3 linked regions of the Homo sapiens genome follow. The protein of the gene in region 2 purifies or fractionates together with the protein of the main gene of each other region. This does not show direct contact. Each region holds a gene or a part of one and is shown on either strand. Other genes may lie near its edges. The genes, in order: FAM234A, TMPRSS12 and FZD6.

The links.
Region 1: the proteins of TMPRSS12 (region 2) and FAM234A purify together in Homo sapiens (affinity purification with mass spectrometry; one large-scale study listed by BioGRID and IntAct). This does not show direct contact.
Region 3: the proteins of TMPRSS12 (region 2) and FZD6 purify together in Homo sapiens (affinity purification with mass spectrometry; 2 studies listed by BioGRID and IntAct, with this or other methods). This does not show direct contact.

The regions. Positions count from the first base shown.
Region 1 is NC_000016.10:258,814-262,463, forward strand, and holds part of FAM234A (protein FAM234A), read left to right. Parts: intron 1-669; coding exon 670-786; intron 787-1,155; coding exon 1,156-1,347; intron 1,348-2,570; coding exon 2,571-2,701; intron 2,702-3,279; coding exon 3,280-3,412; intron 3,413-3,610; coding exon 3,611-3,650.
Region 2 is NC_000012.12:50,841,324-50,845,073, forward strand, and holds the start of TMPRSS12 (transmembrane protease serine 12 precursor), read left to right. Parts: upstream 1-1,602; 5' UTR 1,603-1,641; coding exon 1,642-1,828; intron 1,829-2,518; coding exon 2,519-2,714; intron 2,715-3,750. UniProt on the Homo sapiens protein: Required for male fertility. Plays a critical role in sperm capacitation and acrosome reactions during fertilization, and also plays a role in the regulation of proteins involved in spermatogenesis.
Region 3 is NC_000008.11:103,297,274-103,301,023, forward strand, and holds the start of FZD6 (frizzled-6 isoform a precursor), read left to right. Parts: upstream 1-1,624; 5' UTR 1,625-1,722; intron 1,723-2,682; 5' UTR 2,683-2,834; coding exon 2,835-3,011; intron 3,012-3,750. UniProt on the Homo sapiens protein: Receptor for Wnt proteins.

The sequences.
Region 1 (3,650 bases), on a different chromosome or scaffold from region 2:
AGCTCTGTCGGCCAGGCTGGAGTGCAGTGGTGCAATCTCGCTCACTGCAACCTCTGCCTCCTGGGTTCAAACGATTCTTGTGCCTCAGCCTCCCGAGTAGCTGGGACTACAGGCACGTGCTACTACACCCAGCTAATTTTTTGTATTTTTAGTAGAGACAGGGTTTCACACGTTGGCCAAGATGGTCTCAATCTCTTGACCTCGTTATCTGCCCTCCTCGGCCTCCCAAAGTGCTGGGATTACAGGCGTGAGGCACCTTGCCCGGCCAACTTCACTCTTTTGGTGTTTGATTTTAGGGCATAAAGTTTATCACTTGAGTCCTTGAATGAAAGGAAGTGTAAACCCTGACGAGTATGGAGTGTGGACTGTCTAGATGCCCCCTGGTCTAGGGAGGGATTTATCCCTGAACAGAAGGTGCCAGAACATCCAATTCTTAATGCCCAGATGTCCTGCTTGTTCCTTTCTGAAGGTTAACACTAGGCATTGTTGCCCACCCCCTGGTTTTCACGAAGGAAATTACTCATCCTAGTGAGGAAGAAGCCACCGTCCTCGTTGGGTGCCCTCACAGTGGCAGGTTCCATGTAGCAGAGAAGTAGGTCGTGCTGGACCTGATCGTTCCTGGAAACCAGGCATGGCCCGCGGAGTATAGTCTGTGGTTTTCTCTTTCAGTTATCTATGACTTTCTGGCTGTGGATGATATAAACGGGGACAGGATCCAAGATGTTCTTTTTCTTTATAAAAACACCAACAGCAGCAACAATTTCAGCCGATCCTGTGTGGACGAAGGTAATTTCATTTTATATGAAAAAGGCGGAGCTCCCTGTAGAAAGAGGAATCGTCATTTTGGGTCACCCTCTCGCTTTCAGTGTTTGGGGGAAGCAGATGGTGGTGTTTCTGGAACCCATCTCGTCATCCTTCCTGGCAGACCAGAAAGAGGCCTGGAAGCCCAGTCCCAGCACTGCCCTGGCCCCTGAGCCCCGTGGGGTCAGCATTAGAGCCCCGGGAGCCTGCAAGATACAGGAGATCCACCTGGCGGGAGGGGCTGTGGCCTAGGAGAGGTGTGAGGAAAACAGACCTGGAACAGCACATGCTGGGGCTGGCCGGCCTGCCTGCCCAGATGGTGCAACAGTGAGGTGCCGGTGTCTCTCCCTACAGGCTTTTCCTCTCCCTGCACCTTTGCAGCTGCTGTGTCGGGGGCCAACGGCAGCACGCTCTGGGAGAGACCTGTGGCCCAAGACGTGGCCCTCGTGGAGTGTGCTGTGCCCCAGCCAAGAGGCAGTGAGGCACCTTCTGCCTGCATCCTGGTGGGCAGACCCAGTTCTTTCATTGCAGTCAACTTGTTCACAGGTAGGCCAGCCAGGCAGCGGGGTTCTCACTGAGGGCCTCTCACCTGAGCCACCTCACCCTGAGGGCTAATGCCAGGAGGCCGCGACGAGGCTCAGCCCTGTGATCTTGAGGGTGGCTGGATGGGAAGGAAGGTTATGGGGAGAACCTCCAAGTGAGGCTGCAAGCGTGTGGAAGGCACACGCCTCGGCTGCCTTCAGCTGCACTGTGTCTGTTACCTCCCGTTACACCTTGCTGGTGGGCTGTAACACACAGGGGCAGTCCGATGTCACCTGCCATGGGGTAGCAGAGAGGAGGAGCGGCTTGGCCCCCGGCTGCTCCTGGGGTGTCAGTGGTGGCAGTGCCCAGGGCGAGCCCAGAACATGAACCAGCACTCGGCCCGTCAGGGGAGATCGGGGCCTGTCAGTGCCCCTAAGCCTGAAGGTGCAGGTCTCCGAGCCCCAGCGGAGCCGGCCTCGTGGAAGGACGAGGGAAAGAATGCGTGGTGCACGGGGCCATGTGTGTGTGTGGGCTCCTTGCACCTCATCGCGGTCTGGAAGATTTCTGTGCCTAGATTTGGTGAATGTTCATATTTCCCTTACAAGCTGTCATTTTAAGGATATGGAGGAGAATAAAGAGCAGGCTGAAAATATTTTAAGAATCAAGGAATCTGTCTTTAAAAAAAGGTTTGGATGAGATTGTATGTGCGTAAGGAGTTGGACGAGGACCTGTGGTCAGTAGATCTGCCTCCGGGCGCACACCTCCATTCTTGCCTTCTATGTGGAGGGCAGATGAAGGGGCCACTCAGCTGGGGCCTGCATGGCACCAAGGGCACGCCTGCAACCCCAGCAGGAGGCAGGGGCTTCGAGAGGTGGGTGAGGTCAGGCTTCATCCACTCGGGCAGGAGGGTCAGCATGGGCCCTAGAGGTTCCAGGACACGCAGATAGGAGAAAAGGAAGGGGGAACTCTGCGGTTCCCAGGAATGAGGCTGTCAGCGTTTGGCATATTGCCACCGAGTCTCCATACACGGGCAGGACGTGTGTCCACCACCTCCGCGTGCTGCTCCTTCACGAGCACAGGAGTGCCGCCCTCCCCTCCTGTTGGCATCTGCTCTGAGTGTGCAGTGAGCCGTGGGCTCACGAGGGTGATGCCTCAACAGGAGCCTGCCTGTCACAGGCCTTGCAGTTGCCGGGCTGCTGTTGAAGGGGACTCAGGGCCACGTTCCGTGACCGTGTGCTTGATTCTAGGGGAAACCCTGTGGAACCACAGCAGCAGCTTCAGCGGGAATGCGTCCATCCTGAGCCCTCTGCTGCAGGTGCCTGATGTGGACGGCGATGGGGCCCCAGACCTGCTGGTTCTCACCCAGGAGCGGGAGGAGGTACATCCCAGCCTGGCTCTGCTCCCAAGTCACGAGGCCACCTGCCACACGGCCCTGCTCTACCTCCCCATCTGCTGCCACTTCCCAGACAGGATTCGGGTCTGACCACTTGCCGGGGACTCGCCCAGAGCCCCACGTTCCCAACTCCCATAGACCCAGCATACTCAGGGGGCTCCATCTCTACCAGGCAGCTTTGGGGCCTCCCCAAGAATGGTGGAGTACACACTTCCCATTTGTGCTGTTGCAGTGTTGGGGGTGAAGCTCTGAGGGCTGGGAGCACCTGTGAGGCACTGGGGCTGCCCTGCCTGCCTCATGTGCCCCGTGCAGTGTGGAGGCACCAACCATCGTGGCAGACTCTCTGATGTCAGCGTGTCTTTCCTCAAAACCAAGAGCCTGTGGGCCCCTTACCCTTCCACATCTCCCATTGTAGAGTGCCCCGCCCCCAGGCTCACGTCCCTCTCTTCCTGGGCCTTGTGTCATTGCAGCCCCAGGCTCAGGTCCTTCTCTTCCTGGGCCTTGTGTCCTTGCAGCCCCAGGCTCAGGTCCCTCTCTTCCTGTGTCATCCTGTGTCATTGCAGGTTAGTGGCCACCTCTACTCCGGCAGCACCGGGCACCAGATTGGCCTCAGAGGCAGCCTTGGTGTGGACGGGGAAAGTGGCTTCCTCCTTCACGTCACCAGGACAGGTGCCCACTACATCCTCTTTCCCTGCGGTACGTTGTTTCTGCCACATCCCTGGCCAGCCTCACTCGTGGAGCATGACTGCCCTGCGGCTCCTCAGGTCCTGCTTCTGCTCTCGAGGTGCTGGAGTCAGGAAGCCCAGGGGCCTGGCTCCATGTGGCACTGCGTGCCCCTGGTCCGGGTTCACAGCGTGACCCTGGTGACCTCGGGCCCTTCTGTGTTTTGAATAGCAAGCTCCCTCTGCGGCTGCTCTGTGAAGGGTCTCTACGA
Region 2 (3,750 bases):
TTCATTGGCGGGCATTTTGTAGGCTACCTACCATACCAGAGGATATTTGTCTGCAGATAGGAGTGATCCCACCAAAGACAGGAAATGACAATGCAGGAGAGGAGAAAAGGCAGAGGAAATCCAGGAAGAAGACCTCTGCAGTTATTGATCCACTGCCTTTTTCATTTTATTTGGAGAGATGGGGTCTTGCTTTGTTGCCCAGGCTGGAGTACTGTGGCTATTCACAGGCATGATCTCACTACCAATCAACACAGGAATTTTGATCAACTCCATTTCCAGTCTGGGCCAGTTACCCCTCCTTAGGCAACCTGGTGGTTCCCCACTACCCGAAGGTCACCATATTGATGCCAAACTTAGTTGACCAGTTGACATAGCATACTACAGTCCAGAACTCCTGGGCTCAAGCAATCCTCCTGCCTCAGCCTCCTGAGTAGTAAAACTAAAAAATATATTGTTTAAAGCAGTGCTGTATAATAGAACTACAGGCATGTGCCACCGTGCCCAGCCCACTGCCTGTGTCACTGCTATTTGATGACTTGGCTGCATATACTTGCTTTATGAGTATGTTAAACCTCTACTATCTGTCATAGCAAGACCCGTCATCCTTATCACGTTGGCTATGGGTTTAAAAAAAGAAAAAAAAAGTCATCTTGCCTTGTTTACAAAGGCATACACAATCTGACCACATCTCACACACACAGAAATACACACACCCCAACTGTGTTTTTCTCCTCCTAATATCACCTTCCACTAAAATATCTGGGGAATAAGGACTTTGTTTCTTGTCAGCCCTCAGAGATCAGCTCATGCTGCAATTTGTTTCTCCAATATCACCTCCTCCACCCCAATTTCGGCACAGCTCTGAGACTCTGCTCCCTTCCCCACATGTTACCATGTGTAAGCCCCAAACTCATATACTCCTTTTATCTAATGCTGCCAACTGCACCAGCCTCGGAAGGATGGTATGAGCAAGGCAACTGTCCTTTTATTGACCTCTACGTTAACTCTCCACCACCTCACCAACTTCCCACAGCCCACACGGTCTTCTTATTACTGAAGGTGTTGGGTTAACAAAGGCAAAGTTCAGTATAGGTCAAGATAGGAATGACAGAACAATTTAAAACTGAACATTAGGTATCACTCTTAAAAACTCTGGGTTATGTTAAAGAAAAATTATTCAGTGATACTCATTAAAGCACAGCAAGGCAGACTTTATTCAGGACCATCCAGATAGGGATAGGGACCATGGCAATGGGATTTTGTAATGGGTAGAGGGACTGGGCTAAAATCCAAACAGAGCAGAGCCAAGGGAGAATTTACAGCCACGGAGCAGGAGAGACGTGTCAGTGGATGGAAAATTACTAAGAGGTAGCATCAGGAGTAATGGCATTCCGGCTAACCGACCTAACAGGATTCTTGCTGGACAGGCCAGGGTGATCAGACATCACCTGGGGGATAGTGGTGGATGAGGAAGCCGATCAGACCTTGAGGGTGAGGGGTTCTTTCTAAACTGACCTACCTATTCCTCGGCCGCCTCCCACACCTCCGGGCCTCACTCGCGCCTCCCCGCCAGGCCGTGCGCCCCGCGTGCCCAGGGCGGGTGGGAAGTACCTGCCGCCATCTTGCTCACCAGCCTCCAAAATGCGGCTGGGGCTCCTGAGCGTGGCGCTGTTGTTTGTGGGGAGCTCTCACTTATACTCAGACCACTACTCGCCCTCTGGAAGGCACAGGCTCGGCCCCTCGCCGGAACCGGCGGCTAGTTCCCAGCAGGCTGAGGCCGTCCGCAAGAGGCTCCGGCGGCGGAGGGAGGGAGGGGCGCATGCAGAGGGCAGTACCTGTTCGTGCCTGTCTCTGGGGAGCCTCTCTTACCTTTTCCCCACCGCTATAGTCTTTGAATTCGGGTTTCTCCTTTTCTGTTGTCCCAATGGCCTTTAACCAAAATTTTACATACCTAAGCAGTTTCTAGACCGGCTGTAATAACAGTAGTTGTAATAGTGAAATGACACATTTGTATTGTGAATCTGTATTTTCTCCTCAAAACATTCTGGGTTTTATCATCCCCATTTTATAGATTAATAAGTCAGGGGATAAAGAGTTGAAAGGGAGGGCTATTAGGTGACCATTTCATACTATAGTTGAGAAAAATTAGCCCAACAAGTGAAATGGTGAGCATTAGAATTTGCGGCTCTCGACTCACCGTTCCCAGGCTCTTTAACTGCTATTTCACACAGGGAAGAATGTGATACGTGGCCAAAAATTTTTATTTTTATATTTTTGGGGAATAGAGTTTTAAAATTAATGAATTGTGTTGACTTCATGTCTATTTGTAAGTAATCGATTATGGCATATTTGTCTTAACTCTCCAAGTTTCTTTCAAAATATGGGCGTGTCTCCGGTATGTTAGCTTGCTTTGTGTTTTTAACATAGGAATTTAAAGGATTGCATTAATATGTTCAGCTTAGGAAGTAACACATACTATAGATGCTCAGTCCAAATAATATATCATTTTTATTTTTAGATTGTGGAACAGCACCGCTTAAGGATGTGTTGCAAGGGTCTCGGATTATAGGGGGCACCGAAGCACAAGCTGGCGCATGGCCGTGGGTGGTGAGCCTGCAGATTAAATATGGCCGTGTTCTTGTTCATGTATGTGGGGGAACCCTAGTGAGAGAGAGGTGGGTCCTCACAGCTGCCCACTGCACTAAAGACGCTAGGTACGTATTCAGAACACAACTATTTTTATGCTCTTAGGGGATATTTTGAAGTGATAGAGGACCATTTAACTTCAGCCATTTTCAGCTAAGCTATGTTTGCAAATAGCCATAATGCCTTATATATAGTACAGTGTATTTGTTGAAAGGAATCCTTTATTTATTATTATTATTATTATACTTTAAGTTCTGGGGTACATGTGCAGAACGTGCAGGTTTGTTACATAGGTATACATGTCCATGGTGGTTTGCTGCACCCATCAACCCATCATCTAACTACATTAGGTATTTCTCTTAATGCTATCCCTCCCCTAGCCCCCTACCCAGGAATCCTTTATTTTTTACTTTTTTTTTTTTGAAATGGAGTGTCACTCTGTTACCCAGGCTGGAGTGCAGTGGTGCAATCTTGGCTCACTGCAACCTCCGCCTCCTGGGTTCATGCGATTCTTCTGCCTCAGCCCCCGGAGTAGCTGGAATTACAGATGCCTGCCATCATGTCCAGCTAATTTTTGTATTTTTAGTAGAAAAGGGGGTTTCACCATGTTGGCCAGGCTGGTCTTGAACTCTTAACCTCACGTGATCTGCCCGCCTCAGCCTCCCAAAGTTCTGGGATTACAGGTGTAAGCCACCATGCTCGATCATGGATCTTTTAAATTAGAGGCTGGTAAACTTCCTATAAAGGTAGTAAATATTTTACACTTTGAAGGTCATATGGTCTCTCTCACAATTGCATGAAAACCAGCACTGAAAATAAGTAATTGAATGAGTGTGGCTATAATCCAATAAAACTTTATGAACACTGAAATCTGAATTTCATATGTTTAACGTGTCATGAAATATTGTGGTTGATTCAGCCATTTAAAAATGTAGAGTAGGGCATGTTGGCTCATATTTGTTATCCCAATGCTTTGGGAAGCCAAGACGGGAGGATCACTTGAGGCCAGGAGTTTGAGACCAGCCTGGGAAATATAGCGAGACCCTGTCTCTATATTTAAAAAAATTGTTAATGTAAAAAACATGCTTTATGGACTGTATGAAA
Region 3 (3,750 bases), on a different chromosome or scaffold from region 2:
ACCCAGGGATTTTGAACTCCAAAGTTTGTGTTCTTAATCTCGTACCATTGGGATGAAATTGTACAGTGAAAGACAAGCGATGATATAGATGATTGCCTAAGTATTCCAAATCCATCCTGACAAAAAAAAAATCATTCTAGTTCATCACTGCTCACTATATAATTAAATACAATGAAAAATAAAACAGGCTTTATTTACTTCTGTATAAATCAACTTACTACAATTTTTCCTTCCAAATAATGGAACAAGTATTCACTTGAATTTCAAAACTATCGTTTTCAAATGATACTTTAAAAGTATCGTTTTCAAACGATATTTTAAAAAGTATCGTTTTTAAATGATACTTTTAGTGATACTTCACTGCCTGGTAGTCACTAGAGCCTGATCACAAAAAGATCTCATTAAGTTCGTAGAAACTGGAGAGAAATAGTCTTCCAATGTAGAAAATTAGAAATTTAGGGGAAAATATTCTTCCTACATAGAAATTTATTCTGCAATACATCAACTATCCAGCTCTTAATGATGTTAATATTTCTTCATCACTACCTGTCTCCCAACATCAGTAAGCTTTTGATAAAACTGGGGAGGAATTCCCCACTCCAAATTCGTCTTTCCCCACAGATTCCAAAACTCTTACTCTGGTTGTTCAGGGTTGTCCTTCTAGGTATGGAAATATGACATTCCTTTTCTGCAACAGGATGATTTATCTGACAAGAATAGCCTCCATCTACAAGTTACTTTGCATTTTTCAAAGTACTTCTACAAGTTCATTTGCTTCTCATACTATTCTGCCTGTTTCATAGGAGGGCCTTACAGGTTAGGTGTAAACACTTGTAACGAACTTGGCACTATTTGACTTACAGCCAGTGCTCAATTAACGTTAACCATCATTACAACTATTGTCATTCCTATATTGTGAGGAAACTATGCCCCTTAAAGATTAGGGTAATTTATCTAATATCTATGACAGAGTTGGTACCCCAAACTAGGTTGATTTCTACAGCAGTTCAACTTCCTATTAGGGTTTGTATCAATAAAACTGTGGGACCCGCCAGGGCTGGAATCCCACTGCTACCTGAGCATCCAGTTGGTGACCAGGCTCCCCGAATTAATAAAAGTATTTGTTGTTGTTTTTATAGCAGTTGTCCAGGAAGTATCTCCTTTCGAACTCAAGTCACTTGGGCAATTGGCTTTACAAAGCAAATTGGCTCCGTTTAAGGATTCTTGACTCCTGAAATCCGCAAGGAAGTGGGTTCTTTTAGAGCCAGCGCCAAGAGCTTCAAAAAATCCTTCTAAGGTGAACCCCTCCGGACCCGGATAGCGAGATGGGGCTCAGCCTTGCGCCTCGGGGGTCGTAACAGACGGCAAGGTGGAGGTGGCTTCCCGGCCCCGCAGCCGGACCTCGGCACCCCGAGCCCGTTCACCGGGGCCGGGTCCTGGCGGGCCGCGGAGTGAGGCCGGGCGGCGCAGCGCAGGCGGTGCCCGGGCGCAGGGCCAGTCCCGCCGCCGCCGCCGCCGCCGCCGCCGCCGCCGCCGCGAGCCCGGACCTGCCCGCCCGACCTGGCGGCGCAGTCTCGCGGGATCGCTCAGCTCTCGCTCCCCGTGCGGCTCTCGAGGCAGCTCCAGTCCCGGACGCAACCCCGGAGCCGTCTCAGGTCCCTGGGGGGAACGGTGGGTTAGACGGGGACGGGAAGGGACAGCGGCCTTCGACCGCCCCCCGAGGTGAGGCTTCCACGGCTGGGACTGGGCAGGGGCCGGGCGGGTGCCGGGGGAAGCGGGGAGGGCCTCGAGGGGCGAGGGGCCGCGGCTGGGATGAGGCGCGCCGGGAGCCGCAGGTGCTGGGGAGGCAACGGCGGGACGGCCCGCACCTGAGTTTCCTCGGAAGCGGGAACCGGCTCTGAAAGGCGATGCCGGGGCCCCGCGGCGCCGCGCAGGCCAGGAACGCTGCTGTCTGGCTCTAGGCCTGGGGCAGGTTCCCGGGTGTGGGGCGCTGGCGGACCGGGCATCAGTGTGTGTTGGGGCGCGGGTAATTCGTAATCCGGGGCCTACAGCCTTCCTCCCGCAAGGGGACTGCCTTCGCCCTTCCCCCGGGACAGATTTGCGCACTTTCCTTTCGACGGCAGCACTACACCCTCCTAGCCAGTGAAAACTGCAATGTTGCTCCTCCACTGGAGGAATCCTAAAAGTCTCCCTCTAGTTGGCCTTACGAAAATCGAGAAAACTACATACCCAGAAGACTGCCACAAAAACTGACTCTTCAGAGTCTTTTACAAGTTTAAGAACTCTTTGGGTCTTAAGGAATTTCCCAGGGCCTTAGTTTTCTTGTACTTAATAAGCTTTCCAACAGGGGCCCTTAGATTGTATGCTTATATTAATCCTTTATAATTTACTCCGAATCACCAGCTTTCCTTTTTTCCTCCATCTTACTCTTGCCATTCCCTCTTTTTAACCCTGTCTTCCATACAGCACCAACCTCCTAGCATCGGTTTCCTAGAGGTGCAGCTTCCTTAGCAAATGATATATTCCATGCTAAGGCAGGTGGAAGAGTATCTCGTTAGGACAGAATTTTCCGTTGTTTTTCCAGTGTTTGTTACCTGGGGTGAAAATCTTAACTCTGCACTTTGACTCCACATTTGAGTTTATGACAAATGTTGCTGATACACCCTCCTTTTGTTTTTACAGTAATTGACCCAGGACTCATTTTCAGGAAAGCCTGAAAATGAGTAAAATAGTGAAATGAGGAATTTGAACATTTTATCTTTGGATGGGGATCTTCTGAGGATGCAAAGAGTGATTCATCCAAGCCATGTGGTAAAATCAGGAATTTGAAGAAAATGGAAATGTTTACATTTTTGTTGACGTGTATTTTTCTACCCCTCCTAAGAGGGCACAGTCTCTTCACCTGTGAACCAATTACTGTTCCCAGATGTATGAAAATGGCCTACAACATGACGTTTTTCCCTAATCTGATGGGTCATTATGACCAGAGTATTGCCGCGGTGGAAATGGAGGTGAGTAGTGCTTCATACGTTTATTGAATAGTAGTTTATGCTCTGTTCTAGAATAAACTAGTAAAAATAAGTCTATTTTTAAACAGAGCCGATTTCTTCAAGTTGTGTACAAGTTGTGTTTTGAAAAGTCCTTTTGAAAATTAAATCCCTCTACTGACTTATGTTTTGTGTACCTTTGCGGCCCTGTTTAGTAGATTCGTTTGAATAGGGTTCATTTTATATAATGAAGTATGGTTACACATGATTTCTAAATACCTTGTACCTAGAAAATATTTTGCTTTCCTGAATCAAGTATGATAGTTCTTCTAGAAATGCGAATTCTGAATATTTTTCTACTTCACTGAACATGTAATATTTATTGCCTGGACTAAAACTGAAGAAATTTACAAGTTTTTATAAGTAGTTGTAATATTCACTTGGTACAGTTTTTCTGAAATAAATAAATTATCAGAATATTTTGTTGCTGTAGACTGTATTTTAAGGCTATCACAAAGTCACTAAAAAGTGACTTTGTTTTCTAAGCATAGCACTTATATGTTCTTTATAAGATACTTGTTAAAAGAAACCACTTGGGAGGAGTACAGTGACACTAAAGATTGCCTTAGGTGCCTTAGTTACCTGTCTCTGGTTTAGAGATATGCAAATTACTAGGGAGTGTGAGAAGAAAGCTACCTGTACAGACAGGAACCTGCCTTCCCATACAGATTTGTTAGGTTGTTAAGTCTCCTGAAGGAAACTA